Linked DNA regions of Homo sapiens: region 2 is linked to region 1. The links come from fine-mapping of genetic effects on gene expression. A gene starts in region 1. The other region holds a variant in brackets. All regions are shown on one strand. Distances are between the middles of the regions.

Region 1 (5,389 bases):
TTCTTCCTCTTCCTCTTCCTCTTCCTCTTCTTCTTCTTCTTCTTCTCCTCCTCCTCCTCCTTCTCCTTCTCCAAAAGTCAGTCAGAAAACTGATCGTGGGAAATGTCCTAATCTGTGCTTGACTCATAACAAGTACAAAGAAAAAGCAGTGGTTGATTATGAATCATAAGAAATCAGCCTGTGTGCCACTTTAGGAAATGTGAAATATTTTGAGGTAAACAAAAGTAAACCACGCTGCTTTACACGTTACATGTTAAAGCAGTAGCCCGAAATAATGAATATGTCTCTCTTTTACATATAACTGTATAACAAATATAATAGGTTCTAGGAAGAACCCTGTTTACTGTTTTAGAAAAATGTTTTCTGATAACTCTGTCTTCTGCTGCCATACTAATAATCCTTGAGTATGTTTAAGAAAGGAAAAAGAGAAGTTAGGAAATTGATAATTATCATTTATTAAGCACCTATTAAGTGTTTTACACAGTGATAAGCACTTCAGCTACCTAACTTCATATAGTCTTAATAACACAGAGGAAGATATTATTAGATCCATTTTACCTACAGAGCTTAGTGTTGGTACCCAAGATCACATATCTAAAAATTTGCAGAGCCAAGATTTAAAACCAGGTCAAACCTAGGCATTTGACTACTGTGCCATATATTTCGCATTGACAATTAATTATGAAGTATTGAGAGTTATTAGTGTTGAGAGTCCAAATAATTTTCTAGCTGGAAAAGATGAAGTTCCCTCACTTCTATATTATACAGTTGAAATATTGGTTTTTTAAAAAACTTCCTGAGAAGTGCAAAAAAGAAAACCTTTCTGAAATTACAAGAAAGTAAGTATCTTTTAAATTAAAAATTACTATATAGATTTAAAGTAGCTAATGTCTTAAATTAAGAATCGTATTTTGTCTTTTTCAAAATAGGAATCACTCTGAGGAGAAAATTGGATATTACAGAAGCATTGCAAAAAGAAAACACCAAACACAACAAAACCTAATAAATTGATAGAAACCCACCTTAATAGTGGTTATTCCAATGACCTTCATGGTATTTATGAGTATTGATTTTTAAAAATTTGATTAGAAATATTTAAATTATCAAAATGATACAAATTTCATTCAAATGACAGACACAAATAGAAAGCTAGTAATCTCCCCTCACTATCCTTCCCTGAGTAAACAATTTTGAGGTGTATCTTCACGTTTTTATATTTATATTAAAATAAACCAATATATAAAGAATATGTATAAGGCTAAGTTGTATTACATAATGTTTTCCATTATTCTACTACTATGCTCTTTAGACTTAAATATAATAGATTTTCTTCTAAGACAATAATTCAAATCTTAGTCAGTGATTCTCAACCCTTGTGCACATTAGAATTTCTAGAGGAGCTTGAAAAAAAGACATTGCCATAGCGCCACCCCCAGAGATTCTGGTTTAATTGGCCTGGGTGGGGCCTTGGCATCAAGCTCCCCGGTTCACTCTGATGTGTAGCTAGTTAGAACCACTGATTTAAGCAATCCAAACAGGCTACATGCCTGAATTGTCCTGGTATGTACGTTCCCAGGAAGGCCCTCTGCTGAGGTAACAACACCAGTGTTTGATTGGGAGAGCTCAGGGGGGCCCAGCTACAGTTTTAAGTCTCCTCTATAAGGTTGACTCTCAGATAGGAAATGTGTTTCATCTTAAAGGATGTTAGAGACAGTCATATGACTGCAAAAAGTGCTACTAGGGCCAGGAATTTCAGAGGCCATGTAAATGACAGTGTATTCTACTAGGCTGGGTTAATTCTGGGGATTAAGTTTGACTAAGTTCTAGAGATTTGTCCTTACCTGCAGATGGAGGCTTCCCTAATGGAGCATCATAGGAAGCCACACCCAGAACTTGTTTCTCCTCGTCTGGCAGAAGCACGTTCTCAGTGGGTGCAGAAACTTGTTTGGCTTCTCTTGGTCTGAGAGAATTTTCAAGCCGACCAACCAGCTCCCTGTGTCTGTACTGGTGAGCTCTTTACTAATAGTCAAACATTTGCATGCTCATTTAGTTTTCTTCACTCTTGTTGCACATCTGAGAAACACTTGAGAGAATGGAAGAGAGAGGCACAATATAGGAGAGCTGTGGAGAGTTTGGCCCCACTTTTTATATTTGTTTCAATGGGATAAAACAGGCAGCCAAGATTATTAGGTTTTGTTCTGAGTTATTGGTTCGGCCTTCACTAAATGGCTTTTCCTCTTTCCAAATTAGACATTTTGAGAAACCAGACAGGTTGTTGAAACTTATTTAGAAGTTTTAAAAAAAGTTGTGAATTTTAAGCAAACGGACCTTGGCAGGTGTATGGACAAAGCCACATTATCCTGAGTAAGGGAACGGAAGGGCAAGGTGTGAGGAAAACGACCAAATCAGAATTGTAATATTTTTCCTCATTTCTTTTCTAGTCATAAAAACAGTAACATTACATATTATTTATTTATTTTGTGGTAGGGTCTCACTCTGTCGCCCAGGCTGGAATGCAGTGGCGCGACATTTTTAGATTTGATCTCTTTTACCCTCCAAAAAATAATTGTCCAGTGTTCCACGTTTAGCTAAAACAGTGAATTGTTAGAATTGCAGCAAAACAATGAACCAAACCGTCAACCGCGAGCAACCTGTACTTGGGAGGTGAAAGTCAGAGGTGAGATTGTAAGGGCTCTGGGTCACTGGGGCATCTGCGCTGGGCAGAAGGGCAGCTCGGTCAAACAGCTGGAGCTGGGAGCCGGTCAGTTGCCAGGCCCTGCCGCTGCTACGTCACGGAGGGCGGGGCGGTGGGCGATTGGCGGTGCACTGCAGCTCGGGCTGCTCTGCAGCCTGGCGGAGACGGGAGGAGGAGCGGAGGGAGAAGTAGGTTGCGAGCTCAGCACAGGCTCCGGCGCTGGCTCCCGCAGCTGAGTTTGGGAGATGTCTAAGTGATTTTTTTTTTTTCCCGGAAGGCAAATGGCTGGCGTGGAAGCACAACCCGCTTTCACTCTTCGAATTTGTGCTTAGCTCTTTTCTTGTACCTTGCGACTCGTGACCAACATGCTGTGATGTGTGCCGAGGGAGGAATTGGTAAGAGTGAGACGGCGAATCCCTCTGACTGTCCCAGCCTTCTGCTTCACCGCCCACCCGCTTTTCCTTTCTGTTTCTCTCTCCTGTTTCTCCCCGCTCCACTTCCCTAGTCGTGTTTAGATTTGATGACATGGCTCAAAACTACAGTTCTGGGCTGTTACTGAACTAAAAAAAAAAAACAACAAAAGATAAAATGATTACACCATTTTCAATCATTTGTTAAAGGGGAATTTAAAAATCTATTTTAAATGCTGGATTTTGTAAAAAGGTAAACTGCACACGCGGGCGCACACGGGCACGTACATACACGCATTCTCACACACCTTTGTACACGCGGGCATACACGGGCACGCACACACACGCATTCACACACACACACACTCCTTTGTCATCCCGTTGTGAAATAAGCAGTTTAAAGAAATTTTGGTTATCTGCCTCAAAGGTGATGAAAAGGGAAGGTGTTGAAGATTTAGCCCAGCAGATTGATTCCTTAAGGTTGATTCCCTAAGGTTGATTCCTTAGGAAGAAAAAGGTGTTTGTATTGGAGCTTTCTCGGAAATAGTTTTCAAAGGAGTGCTACAAAGAAGCCCCCATGCTTCCCCCAAAACACTAACTTTAAAGAACCTAGTTGTTATTCGGGGCACCCTTTATTTTACGTTGTAAAACATGTAGTTTTAATTTACCACGTACAGCAGAGAGACATCAGTTGGTTAGGGAATGGATGGTTATTTTGGTGTCTGGGACCCTGTGCCTTTAGAAAGAATATGTTTTAACTGCTCTTATCATGCTAGCTCAGGTTTTTAAAATGTGATCTGAATAAGACCAAAGTTTCTTCTTGCGTTCTTTTCATGCTGGTTCTAAGCAGGGAGAAAAACAAGTCTGTATGGACAGAGCAAACCTCTAACTCAAAATCAACCTTGAGAGATGCATCAACAAGGACAGGGGCTCCTCATCCACCAATATTTACTTGTATCAGCCTTTAAATCATGTAGGTCACATTTCTGTGAAGAATAGCATCATCGAAAACCCTTGCTGACTTGTGAAGAGCAAAAATCATTGCAACGGAGTAGTTTGTTCAGTGCCCGCAGCAAGAACCTCCCACTCCGATCCACCTCAAAAAGTAATAACTGCTTCTTCTGGACTGTTTTCTATTCTCACTACAAATACGTATCATATACCTACATTGAGATAGTTTATTTTTATTAAAATGAGGTCATTTTATACATTTGGAAAAATAACTTAGCAACATTTTAAAGTTTTAGGGAGTTTAAAAATAACATTTAATTTTCATGCTAATTTAACATTCATTAAATTGCATGAAAAAGAGGGAAAATCTAAGCACTCTAAACTAGGATGTGGGGAGTGTTTGACCCTGGCTTAGCAAAACCTGAATACTTTTCATACTTAGTGACTAAATAGAATTGAATAGGGCCGGGCGCAGTGGCTCATGCCTGTAATCCCAACACTTTGGGAGGCCGAGGCAGGCGGATCACCTGAGGTCAGGAGTTCGAGACCAGCCTGACCAACATGGCGAAACCCGTCTCTACTAAAAATACAAAATTGGCTGGGCGTGGTGGTGCATGCCTGTAATCCCAGCTACTCGGGAGGCTGAGGCAGGAGAATCGCTTGAGCCCGGGAGGCGGAGGTTGCTGTGAGTCGAGATCGGGCCATTGCACTCCAGCCTGGGCAACAAGAGCAAAACTCCGTCCCCCAAAAAAAAAAAAAAAAAAATAGAATCTCATTTATTTTGCTATTGTCAGTAAAACGAAGGGAAATGCTCAAATATGATTATAATTTATAATAGAACAGAGGTGACTCACCTGTCAGACAAATGTACTTCCTATAATTGACTTTTTAAATTAAGGGTTAAAAAAATGTACACATATTCAAGCCTTCATTACATGTTTTCTTTATTGTCTGATATAGTTGGAAGTAGTTCTTCTAATGAAGAAGAATCAAAGAAAATGCTACAAGTAAGATTGTCTGAGAATTCTCACAGAACAATGCACTGATAAATATAAATTTAATAGTGCTTGAAGAAAAGGAGAATTGATTTATCAACTCTAGGAATAAATATATGTGTGCTGGATGCTATCACTATTCCTCGTCAGTTATTCCTTCGATATTTTCTTAGATAAATTTATTTCATTTCAGAAATCATTTTAGCCATAGAAACAATACTTTTTTATCGCTTTGCAGAATAAGGACTAACAGTGATGCTAGTTTTGTAAAAGAGTTGTGGCCTTAATGGAATTTTTTTAATGCTACTCAATAAAAGGTATATCAATACAACTATTTG
Region 2 (5,389 bases), 58 kb after region 1:
CCCTCATGCCGTTTCCCCTGCTGTTATCATCTTGCATTAGTCATATGATATATTTGAGATAAGTAATGAACAAATGCTGATACATTATTATTAATTGAAACCCATATTTTATTTGGACTTCCTTCATTTTTACCTAATGTTCTTTCTCTGTCCCAGGATCCTAGCTAGGATGCTGCATAACAGCCATCATTTTGGTTTCTCTAGGTGACAGTTTCTCAGATTTTCTTTCCTTTTGATAAACTTAGCAGTTTTGAGTGGCATTATTCTGGGATTTTGTAGAATGTCCATCAATTTGGGCTTGTCCAGAGTATACATTTATGATGCACAATTTGTGAATCTGATTTACATGGAGGCAGTAGCATTGAACACTTTTCAAGAACAAGGATTTTGGAATCAGGCCTCCTGAGTCTGCATCCCATTTCCACTACCTACAAGCTGTGTGGCCCTTAACAACTATCTAATTTCTCTGTGCCTCAATAAAAAGGATCAATGACACTATCTATCTCATTGGATGGTTAAGAGAATGAGAGAAGATAATTCACATAAAGAATTTAGAACAGCAAATGGCACAAAATGAGTTCTCTATAAATATAGCTGTTGTTACTGTTGTTGTTGTTGTAAATATTGTTAAAATAAGAAATAGGCCTATCTCTTAAGGAGCTCATGGTCCGATGTGGGAGGCAGATATGTAAACATAAATTATCATGTTCATTGTCATAAGATATAAAGTCAGTGTTCTTGTTCCATTTTGTTTTGATTTTCAGGCAGTCAGTATTGGAGGTGGATTTTGCACTGATTAAGGCTTGGGATGTTGAAGCCAAGATACTGGATGTTCTTACGATGCTGGAATTGTATGGGGAATTTGTTTAGAACAAAGGTTTATATATCAAGGATATATGGGTGATACAGTTGGAGGAGGTTTAGCTGAGTGTGTTATTTACAAGCAGGCAAAAGTTGGAATGCTGGAAATGTTTGCAGATTTAGTTCATAGTGAAAGGGTTGATGGAGGATTGATGATACAATTGAAGGAAGCTCATCTGAATGCTGTTCACCTTTGTTTCGGGCCCTTTGGAGAGCACATTGAAAGTATGATAAACTTTTTGTTCTGTAGACTCATGCCCACTTCTTCCATATATCAAATTGATGCAAGTAACAGGCTATAGGAAGATTACTGGGTATTTGAAGAGGGGAATGGGAAGAAAAGACAGATCGGGGATTAAATAATGAAGAGAAATAAAGTAGACAATTTGGTACCTATCTCAATATCTACCTTCAGACAAAGGAAAGAATAGACTTTGTAAGTTTTTTCTTATGAAGCAAAAAGTAAGAATTCCTGCCCTGCTTTGAGGCATTCATGTAACTATTTTGGAGTCTACCTTAAGGTAAGTATTAAGAAATATTAAAGAAATACTAAGAAATATTAAAAGTCATAACGATTTGGATAAGTTTTATCAATATTATAATAAACCTTTGTTTCTCATACAATATATTTTTTTAACACAGGGTCTCACTCTGTTACCCAGGCTGGAGTGCAGTGGCATGATCTCAGCTCACTGCAGCCTCAACCCTCTGGGCTCAAGTGATCCTACCACCTTAGCCTCACAAGTAGTTGGGACTATGGGCACATGCCACCACGCATGGCTAATTTTTGTATTTTTTGTAGAGGCAGGATTTCGCCATGTTTCCCAGGCTGGTCTCGAACTCCTGGGCTCAAGCTATCTGCCAGCCTCGGCCTCCCAAAGTGCTGGGACTACAGGTGTAAGCCACCACACCTGGCTTCACACCTAATTTTTATAAAATTCTCACTGAGCCTGGAATTATAGCTCCAGTAGCTTTGTTTTCTGAATCACATTGTAACTTTACTGGTCTATTTCCTTTTTTGAGAAGGAGTCTAGTCTCGCCAGGTTGCAGTGAAGTGGTGCGATCTTGGCTCACTGCAACCCCTGCCCCTTGGGTTTAAGCAGCTCTCCTGCCTCAGCCTCCCTAGTAGCTGGGATTACAGGTGCCCGCCACCACACCCAGCTAATTTTGTGTATTTTTAGTAGAGATGGGGTTTCGCCATGTTGGCCAGGCTGGTCTCAAACTCCTGACCTCAGGTGATCCACCCACCTCGGCCTCCCAAAGTGCTGGGATTGCAGGCCTGAGCCACCGGGCCTGGCCTATTTCCTTTTCATAGCTTCCACAAAATGATTAAAGGTTGAGTCACTTCATATCTTCTTGATTCCACTTTTGCAATTGTACTGACTGAACAAGTTTTCCCTACAGTAATAGCTGAGCTACCTGGAACTATACTAATTATATAGTTGCATGA[C/T]GACTGATTTCCCTAATGATGGCTAGGAGTTACACGATCATTAAATATAGCCTCCATGTTTATATGTGTTTTGAAGTACAGTATTACCCCCTTATCTGTGGTTTTACTTTCCACAGTTTCAATTACCTTTGGTATAGTAAAATAAGATATTTTGAGAGAGAAAAAGAGAGATCACATTCACATAAGTTTTACTACAGTATATTGTTATAATTATTCTATTTTATTATTAGTTATTGTTGTTAATCTTTTACTATGCCTAATTTATAAGTTAACATTTATCATAGGTATGTATGTATATGAATAAACATAGTATATTTAGGGTTCAATACTATCCGTGGTTTCAGACATCCACTGGGGGTCTTGGAACATATCCCCTGTGAAAAAGGGGAAACTTCTGTATTTTTAAAATATTTTTTAAATGGTGTTACGTCATCAATAAATTCCTTGAGCTACTCAAGGATTTATCAGTCTCAGCACTATTTGGGCTAGATTAATCTTTGTTGTTGGGGGCTGTCCTGAGCATTGTAAGATGTTTAGAAGTATCCTTGGCCTCCACCCACTGAATGCCAGCAGCACACTTCACCCAGTTATAACAAGCAAAAGTATCTACAGCCATTGCCAAACCCCCAGGGGACAAATTCACCCCATGTGGAGAACCACTGAGCCAACTTATTATATACAAATCACTGCTGAGGAGCTATAATATAGTGGGTAGTGTGCTGGCTTTGGAGGCAGAAGACCTAAATCGAATTTCCAGCTCCACCCACAACTAGCTGTTTAATCATGGTTGAACTGCTTAATCTCTCTGGGTCTTAATCTCCTCAGCTGCAGAGTGGGCAGTGATAGTTTCTACCTGATGGCATTATTTTGAAGATAAAAAGGAAATAGGTATACATATATATTATGTACACACACACACACACATATATATATGCATGAAAAAAGGAGGATCTCAAAAAATATTAACTTCCTACCCCACAACTTTCCCTTAATACTAGGGATATTTCATTGACATGTCTATTGATTCATTCATTTATTATTCATTTAATAAATTTTTATTTAAATGAAAAAACATGGACTCATTGAAATTAAGCAGGGGATATTGGCCATGTGTTAAAAATTGGCCCTGTTAACATATATAGGTAGATTCAGAAACAGTAAAGCATGGGGCTGTGGAGTTTAATAGAACTGATTTTAAGACTAATTTGTACCATTTTTGTGAGATGGGGCAAATTACTTAAGTTTATTTATTTGTAAAATGCTGGTATTAATAGCATCTGCTGAGATATAATGATTAAATGAGGCAAGTGCCTGGTACATAAGCAAATGCCTGGTACATTCTGCACATGTAATCTATAAATTCCCAATGAGTGGTATGAGTAAGAGTCAGTATAGCTACAGAGGTCTTTGTGGAGGAGCTGGCATTTGAACTAAACTTCTAAAGATGTTCAGTATTTATGTAAATAGAAAGGACGCAAATGAATATTTCAAGCAAAGGCATAGATGAAAATGGAGGAGATCAGAATCTCTGGGACACAATATGTAAACCAGTTTTTGAAGCTGGAAGGTCATACTGGGAAACATTCCGTGTTGTTTAGGCAGATTATATGATGAGACTTGCAGAGCTGGGAAAGATCTTAAAGTCACCGAATCCAAATCGTTCATTCTGAAATGTTTCATTCTGAAAACAAAGGCCCAGAAACAGCAAGTGATTTTGCTGAAAGCCACTTAGTCTTTGAAAAAGTTGGTACTGGAACCTAGGATCACCACATAGACCCTTAGCCTCTCCTTGTCCTTAAAGAATACAGACAAAAACTATTACAAAAAAATAGAATGTGCAAACATTCTTCACTTCATAGAATAACTTACCCAAAGCCATACTTTATCCTATAGCTAAATAGAGAAGACTGGCAATCCAACAAGCACCTATTTATCGATGGTCTATATTCCAGACACTGGATACAATGCTGAACAATTCACATAAGGCCCCTGCTCTCATAGAGTTTCTATTAGAGAAAATATTCACAAATATATTACTTTTTTAAATCAAGAAAAAAATTAGCGATAAGTACTTGGTAGAAAATTAAAATAAGGTGGTATAATATAAAATGATTGGATGGCCACTTTGAACTGGAGGGTCAGGCAAGGCCTCTCTAAGTGGGACATGGGGCTTAGATCTGAATGACATAATCTTGAAATTCCGTAGGAAAGGCTTCCAGTCAGAAGGAACATCTAGTAAAGAAGCCCTCAGGCAAGGGTGAGCTTGTTACTTTTCAAAGTAAAGAAAGAAGGCCAGTGAGTCTGGATTTTAGTGGGCATGTAGAAAGAGAAGTGAAGTTAGATAGGTCAGCAGGGCTCTGATCATCTTGAGTTATTTAAGCCAGGATAGGGAGTCCAGATTTTATTCTAAGTGAATTGTAAAGCTACTGGAGTGTTTTATGCAGGAAGTGATCTGATCTGCTTTATCTTTTAGGAAGATCACTCTAGCTACTATTTGAAAAATGGATTGCAGAGGGGCAAGGAGACCAGTTATGAGACTATTGCACTGGTCCAGTTGAGAGATGATGGTGGCTTGGACTAAGGTAATGGATATGGAGAGAAGTAGAGTTATTTGAGATATTTTTTGGATGTATGGAGGACAGATGTTAGTTATACTTTGAAAATAAGAAAGAAGATAGGAAATTAGGAGGATTCTAGATTTCTGGCTTAAGTAACTGTGTAAGTCGTTAAGTTTGATTTACAAAGATAGTACCTATCAACTGCTGCTTTGAAGTCTGAGATTATCATATTGGCAAAACAGACAGAATTCTCTGACCTTTTGGAGATTGTATTCTACTGGATGATTCAAAAAATAAAATAAATAAGATATATATGTGTAGATGGTGGTAGGTCTTGGCATAGGATCTATTATAAATTGTGTGGTCAGATCTGGGAAGTCTTCACTTCCCAGTGAGGTCATTTCAAAGATGGGACCAGTTGAGATCACCAAGGAAGATGCAGGTAGAGAAGGAAGGTGCTTCTGCAGCTCTCCAGTATTTGAGGACTAAAAAGAAGAGACAGCAGGAGAAACTAAGAAGA

Alleles and levels. Positions count from the first base shown, and alleles are read on the strand shown. Sizes are in standard deviations (SD) of each study's normalised expression.
In carriers of allele C in region 2, the expression in pituitary of the gene that starts at base 2,846 in region 1 tends to be lower than with T alone (small effect, 0.37 SD a copy in GTEx).

What was found.
Region 2: its variant is fine-mapped to the expression of ATP10D in pituitary (GTEx, PIP 0.92).

The regions. Positions count from the first base shown.
Region 1 is chr4:47,482,430-47,487,818 of GRCh38, forward strand. ATP10D (ATPase phospholipid transporting 10D (putative)) reads left to right here and starts at 2,846. Exons shown (of 23, transcript NM_020453.4): 1 at 2,846-3,090. RefSeq lists enhancers at 2,683-2,977, 2,949-3,018.
Region 2 is chr4:47,540,619-47,546,007 of GRCh38, forward strand. All of the region lies in intron 9 of ATP10D (ATPase phospholipid transporting 10D (putative)), which reads left to right. Among named protein-coding and RNA genes, the nearest start is that of ATP10D, 58 kb to the left of the region's middle. The variant C/T (reference allele first, on the strand shown) is at 2,312.